Regions from separate parts of the Homo sapiens genome. Here region 2 is linked to region 1. A link means that fine-mapping ties the variant in region 1 to the expression of a gene that starts in the linked region. Tissue or cell type: lymphoblastoid cells. Region 1 holds a variant in brackets; the other region holds the start of a gene. All regions are shown on one strand. Distances are between the middles of the regions.

The links. PIP is the estimated chance that this variant, and not a neighbour inherited with it, causes the effect.
Region 2: RASGEF1B starts here. The variant in region 1 is the best candidate, but not a certain one, in a credible set for the expression of RASGEF1B in lymphoblastoid cells (TwinsUK, PIP 0.84).

The regions. Positions count from the first base shown.
Region 1 is chr4:81,519,993-81,525,222 of GRCh38, forward strand. No RefSeq gene overlaps it. Among named protein-coding and RNA genes, the nearest start is that of RASGEF1B, 51 kb to the left of the region's middle. The variant A/AACAC (reference allele first, on the strand shown) is at 2,650.
Region 2 is chr4:81,468,998-81,474,496 of GRCh38, forward strand. RASGEF1B (RasGEF domain family member 1B) reads right to left here and starts at 2,910. Exons shown (of 14, transcript NM_152545.3): 1 at 2,773-2,910. RefSeq lists a silencer at 2,842-3,251.

The DNA.
Region 1 (5,230 bases):
TAACGCTGGTGAATTCCACCTACATGCGGTCTCAACATACAGCTGTGATTTAGCTACCAGTGCATTTCTGAAAATTGCTTCCTTAGCATTTCAGCGTGTTATTTGAAAGAGCAACTGAAGTAGAAAGAAAATCAAGCAACAACAGGAGGGACTCGTTTTTAAACTCATTACTTTGCAAGCTGAAAAATTTGCTTAGATCAGTTGGGGTTTCAAATGTAAAAATTGACTTCTGATACAAAAGCCAGTAGCTACAGTTTGAAAGTCTGAAGCACATTTTCCCCACTCACTTCCTTATTTTTCCAACAAGAGTTTCATATGCCTTTTTAATAGGTGAGATGTGCAACCCATGGAATGCAGAGTATTCCTGTTTATATCATTATTAAAATGTAAACAGAAATACACTTTATGGAAAAACTGGGGCTAATCATGATTTTTATGCCCCTCCCCCATTTCTAATTTTTAAATAAAATTGGTATATGGGAAACATTATTCTGACTGAGTTCTTGTTGAATATTTGTTGAAAATTTCTACAATTTTAAATGCATTTACAATTCTGAAACACCAATTTAACTTGAGAGGCTAAGTAACAAGAAGATATCAAGTTAAAATATCATTTTGATACCCGAGCTTTGTGGCTATTTCAATATGTAAGTGAGCCTTCATGATGGTTCTTAAAAGTAAGTTATTATCATAATATATGCTTTATCTAGTAAATTCTTCTCTCCGGACTTAGTTTTTTTTAATGTACTTAAAAAATAGCATCTTTTGGGTTATGAAAGCCCTTAAACAATGATTTTCAAGGACTTCTGTCATTGCTTAATAATATTCAAAACCTATAGACAAACTTCGGAATTACATGTTAAAAATTGTACAGGTTGAGTATCGCTTATCTGAAATGTTTCAGAAAAGAAACATTTCAGATTTTTGAATTTTTTCAGGTTTTGGAATATTTGCATATACATAATGAGATATCTCAAGGATGGGACCCAATTCTATGATAAACACAAAATTTATTGATGTCTTATATACGCCACATACACGTAGTCTGAAGGTAATTTTACACAACATTTTAAAACAATTTTGTGTATGAAACAGTTTTGACGTAGTTTGCACTGGGACTCATCATATGAGATCAGGCATAGAATTTTCCACTTGTAGCATTATGTTGGCACTCAAAAAGTTCTGGATTTTGGAGCATTTTGGATTTGAATTTTCAGATTAGGATGTTCAACCTGTATATGCAACCTGTATTTAATCACAACTATGCTTTTTTAAAAAAGCAGCAAACCCATTGCAAAGAAAGATGAAAGGAAATTCACCAAACTCTTAATAATAGTTATATATGATAGACAGGAATAAAACAAAGGTTTTAAAGCAATGCAAATCTCTATTAAGAAATTCCTGATCCATTTTTTATACCTCTTTCAGAATATGGTGTCAGAGGTTGTAAGGAAGAGCAGGTTGTAAGGAAGGGCAGGTTGTAATCCTGGCTCCATCACTTACTGTGTGACCTGAACAAGTACAAAAGTCTCCTTGTGCCCTGGTTCAATTATCTGTAGAAATGAGATAATAATAATACTTACTTTGCAGAGTTGTTGTGAGATTAAATGAGCTAATGCACGCAAATTACTTAGAACAGTGGCAGGAACTCACTTGAAATAAGTGAGAGCTATTATTTTGTTATTTGTAATGAATCTGCTTACAATTCCAACTCTACCAGTGGAATGTGACCTCTTGAGGGTAGTGATCACCTGTTTATTTATCTTCTGTAGCCCTGGACCCTAAGACCATGTCTAGCAAATAAGAAATGCTCAGTAAAGAGTTGTGACTACATTAATGAATGAATTCCCCATGGCAAAGTGATAGAGAGTTTCACTGACTATTTCATCAGTAATGATCTAATGGTGGCTGCCTGCCACTAGTCTCTGACCCTTCTTTCTCTTAGCATTCACGATACTTAGCTTCTGCTCTGAAAGTGTTCCAAGCCTATCTGCACTGATCCAGGCCACTAGCAAATGGTTCAACTGATGAGAACACATCTATAGACCAACAAAGAGCACTTAAGAGGAAGAGTGTTACTCTAAAATATATCAATCTATAGTGTTAGAAACTTTAATCACCTTCCAGATTCTCGTATGGATCATAAACACTAAATCACATCAGTTCAATAGAGTCAAAAGGCACTTCATCCATGTGTAAAAATCAAGGTTTATAAGGCAGTCAGTATTTTTCTTTGGTACCACTCTCACCTTCAGCAGCTGCAGCCCAAAGCTATTGGGCAAAACTGAACTCGCCTCAAAAAATCTTCTGGGAAGACTAGGAGTCTACACAAATGACTGGACTACACCTTCGTAGAGAACAAGTTTGCTCTTCTGAATTTTCTTCAAACTTCATTTTTCCTTGATTTTTAAAACAGATAGCATTTTGTAAAACTGTAATATGCTGAAGACCTATTCAGAATTTCTTGTGATGAAACAAAAATTGTCATATTAAGTTAATGTTCAATTAATATAGGGTAATAGCTAATATTTGTCTCCCCTTACAAGGTTAGTCAATAATAGAAAACAATCTCCTCAGTTTCCTCTGTGCATGTTTCCACTCCAGTTCTTCCTCTCCTGCTTATGCAGAGGCTGTTCTTAAAAAATACTA[A/AACAC]ACACACACACACACACACACACACACACACACACACATGCCACACCTATATCTTTAGTAGTTTGAGTAAAGAAGATGTGTATTATCATATCCCTTTTCTAAGATCAGGCACCCAAAAGGAGTTAATAAATCACCTTGGAAAAGTACCTTAAAAATCTTCAAAGGGCTGTACCCTAGCATCCCTAACTGCCCTTTATTAACCCACTATGGGTTATTACTTCATTAAATGAAACTACTAAAATACCCAGGGGATGAGGTGGAAGAAACGGGTAGGATGGAATTAGTAAGTACTGAGTAAATGTGGTGTAATGGAGGGAGTTCAGTACAGGAGAAAAGGGTGAGTGACTAGCTCACACTGACTAGTATTTATATAATGTCCAATAATTTACAAGGTGCTCTTACATAAGGGAGGAGAACCAAAAGACACAGTGGAGGAGATGGTAGTCAGTCAATTAGACTAGGTACGGAGGCTTCACTAACACATATTTTCTTTAGACCTTAAAATTACCTTACTTTAAGTTCCATGGAGATAATGGAATCCATGATGACTACAGGGATACGTACATATGCTTTTAATTATTTTGAAATGTTAAATAGGTGGGTCAAAATCTGGCCTAAAGTTTTGCAAGCTTTGACACTGTAACTCCTGTTACTCGAATGGACAAAAAAGTTCATTCTGATAATTTTACCTTTTTTTTTTTTTTTTTTTTTTTTTTAACAGATGGAGATAGGGTCTCACTCTGTCATCCAGGCTGGAGTACTGTGAAATAACCACAGCTCATTACAGCCTCAAACTCCTGGACTCAAGTGATCATCCCACCTCAGCCTCCCAAGGAGCTGGGACCACAGGGGCAAACACCAGGTTCTGCTCTGATAATTCTAAACCTTGATACATAAAGTAGAGTCAGGAGATGGGTTTCTAAGAGCTTTCATTCATCTGATTTCCCAGCACCACGAACATGGCAAATTCAGATTATCGCAGCAGAACTGTAGCACAAGGGCAAGAATGACCAAAGGCCCTTCAAAGCCTGGGGTTGACCAAGAAGAAATTCCTATTTCTGAGCAGTTATTCTGAGGCAGGCTCTGATTCAGTCAACTGGATGAAGAAGTGAGCAGTATTTCCACCCAGAAGACCCAGGCAGCCTTTAACTTCATGACAGCTTGTCTTTCAAACCGCAAACCAGAACATGGCCAAAATCCCATAAGGTGCAGTCCCCCTGCTCTGAGGTATAGCATTATTCTCTACGAAACTTTAGAAGAAGGAAAGTGTGAAAGTCTGAGAGTCTAGCCTACCCCCATCCCAGGAGGCCATTATGGGCCATTTTACTGCAGTTTCTCTTTGTTTTGTTTTTTCCATTTAGCTACAGCATGTAGAGAGAAACCCTATTCAAGAGAGTGGGGTCATTATCCACACACAAAAGGCCATTTAGAGAAAGAACAGTGCAGTCAGTTCAAGCTATGGTTGCCAGAGTCCAGACCTATTGGACAAAAAGGTTAGCTGTTTAAGTGGGAATGTGAAACAAAATGTAGTAATTAGGTCTAACTAGGCACCCTCCCCTCTGCTGAGAAAGCTGCCTGGGATCATAAACTCATTCCCTGAAAGTTCTAAGCTTAGGAGAAAGCAAGTCATCAACACTAAGTGACAGTTCAGTTGTTAACCTTTACCCTAGAGGCTAGGTTTTTTTTCTTTCTTTTTTTTTCTTTTTGGTATGTTTTTTATAGATGTCACTTTTATAAGCTTGAGCTGTTCTTTTTCTAGTTACCACTATTGACAGTTTCAGATCACTGTTGTGTGTGATTGTGTGTTAAAAAAAAAAACACATGAAAAAATATAAATGCTACAATTAACAGTGGTTACCTTTAGTGATGAAATATACGAAATAATTGGGAATTAATTTTTCTCCCTTCAACCTTGTACTTCCTAATTGCTCTTTTATTAACACATAATGTAAATGAGAGGAAAAAAGACACATATATCTCAGGCAAAATTTTCTACCATGTTTCACTTAAATGAGGAAAAAACAATTAGAGTTTTGACAAGAATAATCATGCACAGAAAGGAGGTATAAGCCTCTGAGAAGAGGCAGTGTCATGAAGGTATGAGAACTGATATGAATGTTAACCAGCCTTCACCCTCTTTTCTTCAGCCATTTAGTGGCATCTGCATAAAAGTAATTTCAGACTAACAGATATTTCATAGTTGTCACTAAGACAGCAAGTTCTCAGCATTTAGTATGCTCAGAGGTGTGGTGTTCTGGTTAATAAAGCAATGCTAGGATGAGCACATGCTAGTTATTTAATAGACATTTCCTGTTGGATTGATTGGTTGGAATATTATGGTTGCAAGAGAGTAACCATGTATACAGGGCATGGATAACCAATATTCAATAAATAAAATGTGACCTAAAATGCTTTTGAAAATTTCATGTGTAATAATTCAGAAGGTTCTTTCAGTTTTGCAGAGCCTTGACTAATCATGTTGCATATCAATGATAAAAATAACAGAGAATGGCCAAAGTACAAATTCATAAGGAGTTCCCTTTGCTAGATTACATGACAAATCTGCTTTTTATATGATATT
Region 2 (5,499 bases), 51 kb before region 1:
ATAACATCTGTCACTTTAGGATAAGCAAAGGTTGCATGGATCTTTTTTGTAGTTTTAACTGGAGAATCAAAAAGGACAACTATAGGTCTGAAAAAGTGAGGGGGGTGGGCTGGCAATACCTGAATTCAACTACTACTAATAAAAATCCCATAAATCTTAAACAGCATTTTTAACAGTGCAATTGGCCTCTTTAAGAAGTCACAAAATGTTTTCACAGCTTTTTCATTTATTATGTGTGGCATCAGAATCAAGTTTCCCAATCCCTGCTTCAAGGATTCTAGATTCTTCTCCCAAGCAAAGAAAAAGACATTCCATTCACCCATCTCCTTTCCAAGGAGGTGCTCTCCTGGGGCTATCCCAATGTTCCTCCCAAGTCCAATTCTTCCAGGTACTCTGCGGATATTGACAAAGCTGATCCCAACACTCCTGAGTCATACTAGGGATCCCAGCTCCTCCCCTTCAATTTTCTTACCATGTCTTTTTCCTTAGAAAGGTGTATTGAATTGTTTTTATATAGTCTATTGTACTCTATTAACTAGTAGTTAATTTTAGGTTCTAAGAATAAAATGTTATATAAGAACTATGTGTTATTATAATACTTTGATTTAGTTATACATATAAATACATATGTATATATGTACATATATGTGTATATATACACACACACACACACACATATAAATAATCTATTAGATGCTAAGCTGTAGGGGGTTAGCGGGAGACAATACATGGGAATGCTTTCTGGTGATTCTCTTCTCCAAAAGACAGTATGATTCCCAGGTATTAGATGTGTTAGTATCAGATAAAATATCCAGTGGAGCACATAAAATGAAGCAAGACTGAAAATGCACCATAGGAGAAATAAATTCTAAGAATGTAACACTTCGTTAGACAACTGGAAAGTACAAGGCCAATATGCTTAGTAGTTAGAAATGTTGCCCACCTCCAAGAAAACAAAGGATTGACCCGACATGCAGTGGAAGAATGCCAACAAGAAACTTGTTAATCAGTGGCTGATCTCATCTTCACCAGAAAATCTGCTTGAGAGGCATAATATAACGCTGTTTGTAAACCCTGATATCTGTCAAAAGTGCCCTAAGGTCCTCCTCTCTAGCTCCACCACTGCCCCTCACTTAAAAAAATAAAATTACCTTTAATGATAGGGTTTAACAAGCTGCCTTCTTTTTTTCTGTTATGAAAACCTCAACAGCAAATAATTTTTATTTCTTTTTATTAAAGAAAGCAACTCTATATTTGTTCTAAATCTCATGGGACCAGTTATTTTCACCCAAACGGCCAACCAGGTATATACGCTGCTTAACTGTAAACCTCCTTGTTTCTTAGCAGAGGCTTATCGCCATGGTCCAACTATGTTTTAAATTAAGGCATAGCCATCACATGCCAAGCTCTAGCTACTGTTTTCACGAGGAAAGGGCAATTATTCACCCCATCTGAGTGTGACTGTGCCAGACATCATTCAAGAGTGCACCACCCTGATCCCTAGACTCTTCCCCTTTATGCACCCAGTTCAGAGACCCTCCCTTCGGCCATTAGACCATCTGAGCTAAATATAGATCTACACACACCAGCAGTTCCTGACCGTCGTCACATGGTGCTGACGAAGGACTCCTTGGAGACGCGTTCGGCCCAAACACATACACAAATTTGTGTGCATATTCATCTATATACACCATATCCACCGAATTCATCAGGGAGGATGGACACATCTACATTCCGAAGAGAAAATCGCCGTCTAGACAATCTCCTTGTGTTATCTGCCACACTTGTGCCACCCTCGGCAGTGTCAGAGGATTAAGCTACGTTGCTTTTGCCTGAACTGCGCCGATTTGGTTGGGGCAAGACAGCAAGCAGTATTGAAATGGTACGTCCATACACACACACAAAGGCGCGCGCACCCCAGCCCCCGTCTCGCCCTTTTCCCTGGTGCAGCACTTAAGTTGTTTTCACAGCTCCCTTAGAAAGAACCTCCCTTAAGCTGACTGCCCGCGAGGCTCCTAGATACCTCTAGCTCATCTGAGATTCCCCAGGCAGGTGACCCGAGGCGACTCAACTGAGCTCTGGCAAAAGCAAGGCGACTCAGTGTCTCCCAAGTTTGCCAGGTGAACACCGAAGGATGACAGCACATCACCTTGTCGGTGGCGAGTATGTGACTTCTGTTCCCTTGTCCCTTCCTACGAGTCAGACTTTAGATTACATGGCACTGACAACAAAAATAAACAGCTCCCCCTACACACACACGCACACAAAACTGGTCAAGAAGTGGAAGAATCAACCTAGGTATGCACACGAAGGAAAGAAGGGATGAAAAAAATGATGGACGCGATTACAACTCAAGACAAATCCTCAAAAACCACCTATCTCGAGACAGAAGGCCTGGCTGCAGGATCAGGGAGAAAGAGGGAAGGCACAACCCAACCCAACCCAAGCCTGGCCCTGCCCGGGTCCCAGCGGCTCGGCCTCGCACCTGTTGGGGCCGCGGCAGTCCCAGGTACCCGCAGCGGCCGGGCAGGGGCCCTCCCCCGGTCCCGGGCTGTAACTCGGCTCTTGGCGCCCGCGTTCGCGCTCACTCGCCTCGGGATCTCCCGCCGCCTCGGAGCGCACCCGGCAGCCGGTGAAGTCTCTGAGCCCCGCTCGCTCCCCGCGCGGCCCAGGGATCTCCAGGGAGAGCGCAGCGCGCAGTAGGGTCCGGAGTTCCCGCTCCGGGCTGTGGTCCCCCAGCCGGGAGAACAACCCAGCCAGGGAACAACCTACCTGCAGGTGAACTCCGAGTCCTCGGCCTCCCGGCTGCGTGCCGCGCGCCCACAAATGCGACCAAAGGACAGGGAGCTAAAGCGCGCGGGAAGAAGAAAAACAAAATCTGTCTAACCAGTCGGGTTCCTTGTTTATACTGAAACTACGGCAGCCGCCGCCGCGCACGCCCCCCTTGGCTCAGGCGCCTGCCTCCCGCTGCCAGCCCCGCCCCGCCCCGGCAGGCGCGGGCCAATCACCGCGCAGCTCACCGCCCACGCCGCCGCCACCCGGCCCGGCAGGCAAGTCCCAGTGGGCCCCAGACTCCCGCAGCGCGTCAGCCTGGGTGCCCTCCCACGCGGCAGAGGCCCGCGGAGCCCAGCGCAGCGGTGTTTAACAGCGTTGGTCAGGCTGGCTCCGACTGTGCGCGTTTCCTCTTGAGTGCACCTGCCCCGGGCTGTTGTGCAGTCGTGAGTGTGTGTGTGTTCATTCACGTGTATACTATCTGTAAATACCGGCCCGACTCGTTACACAGTATTTATTAACATAATTGTGAGCTAAAGGTTACTGTCCATGTAACTTTCAGAAGAGAGCGGAGAGGAACCACAGAACATTTGCTTAGCAAATAACACATAGATCCTGGTGCTAAGCACTGTGCAAAACGCTGGGGGCACACTTGGCAAAGTAGGCTGGTCTCTGCCATTGTGAAACTTACATAGTCTAGTGGAGGACAGACATTCAGCAAATAATCACCCAAACAAAATGTAGAATTACAGCTGCTAGAAGTTGCACGGAGAGGAACCTGTTCCGTGAAACATGATTCCGGAGGCAAAGCAGGGAGGCTAGTCCTCAGTGAGGGCTGTGTTGTCATGGTAACCACGTACTCACTCCATCATGGGATATTTGATAACTATTTCAGAAAAAAGGTAAAAACCTCCGTACTTCACTTTGTACACATAAAAGGAGGCCAGAGGGAAATAATGATGGAAACAAGGGAAGAAAGAGACCTATGAAAAGAAAAAATTTACAGAATTAGGAGACTCTTACCAACTGTATTTCCTTGAGTAAGTGATACAGCTTTTCTGAGCTTCAGTTTTCTCATATATAAAACAACACTATTCATACCTGTCCTATACTGTTATAATTAAGATTACTGAGGGGGAGGAATCCTTTTCCCTCCTGCTCCATGGGTCCCTCCCCCTCTCCTTCCTGGGGTGGAGTCATTTTGACGCTCACTTTGTCTATTCTTAGCGGATTCCTCTTTCATTTTCTTCATTTATGCCTCCTTTTACTTTTCTTCCTCTTTATGATACTCCTTCCCTCCTTTGTGTAAATAGGACTCCTCTGATTCAGTAATTCACTCTAACCTACTTGAGCCTTTGACTTAACCATAGCTTCTCTGCAGTTTAAATGAGAAGCCATAAGGCCAAGGGAACTTGGTGGGCCAGCCATGCAGAGTGAAACACAGAGGCTGGGTGGCCCTGCCCTGCTGTTGTGGTTGTACTGGTTGGTTGATTTTTCAAGCTCAGTTTTTGCATCCCGATTCTGTAACAAACGAGCCATATGACATTGGGCCAGTCACTTACACCCTTGACATTACTGATCCTGTAGCCAGAAATTAAGAGTTGCAGGGGATTGCTGGCAAGATGGCTGAATAGGAACAGCTCCAGTCTGCAGCTCGTAGCGAGATTCACACAGAAAGCATGTGACTTCTGCATTTCCAACTGAGGTACCCAGTTCATCTCACTGGGACTGGTTGGACAGTGGGTGCAGCCCACGGGGAGTGAGCTGAAGCACGGTGGGGCATCGCCTCACCCGAGAAGTGCAAGGGGTTGGGGAATTTTCTCCTCTACCCAAGGGAAACCATGAGGGACTGAGCCTGAGGAACTCCAGCACAGATACTGTGCTTGTGCCAGTTTTCGCAACCCACAAACCAGGAGATTCCTTCCAGTGCCTACCCCACCAGGGCCCTGGGTTTCAAGCACAAAACTGGGTGGCCATTTGGGCAGACACCGAACTAGCTACAGGAGTTCTTTTTTTTTCCATACCCCAGTGGCGCCTGGAACACCAGCGAGACAGAACCGTTCACTCTCCTAGAAAGGGTTGCTGAAGCCAGGGAGCCAAGTGGTCTGGCTCAGCCGGTCCCACCCCAATGGAGCCCAGCAAACTAAGATCCACTGGCTTGAAATTCTCACTGCCAGCACAGCAGCAGTCTGAGATCAACCCAGGACACTCGAGCTTGGTGGGAGGAGGGGCATCCACCATTGTTGAGGCTTGAGTAGGCAGTTTTACACTCACAGTGTAAACAAAGCCTCTGGGAAGTTGGAACCGGGCAGAGCCTACTGCAGCTCAGCAAGCCTGCTGTGGCCAGACTGCCAAATTTCCCTTCTCTGGGCAGGGCATCTCTGAAAAAAGGCAGCAGCCCCAGTCAGGGACTTATAGATAAAACGCCCGCCTCCCTGGAACAGAGCACCTGGGGAAAGGGGCGGTTGTGGGCGCAGCTTCAGTAGTCTTAAACGTCTGCCTGACAGCTCTGAAGAGAACAGCAGATCTCCCAGCACAGCGTTCAAGCTCTGCTAAGGGTCAGACTGCCTCCTCAAGAGGGTCCCTGACCCTCGTGTATCCTGACTGGGGGACACCTCCCAGTAGGGGCTGACAGACACCTCCTACAGGAGAGCTCTGGCTGGCATCTGGCAGGTGCCCCTCTGGGACAAAGCTTCCAGAGGAAAGATCAGTCTTTGCTGTTCTGCA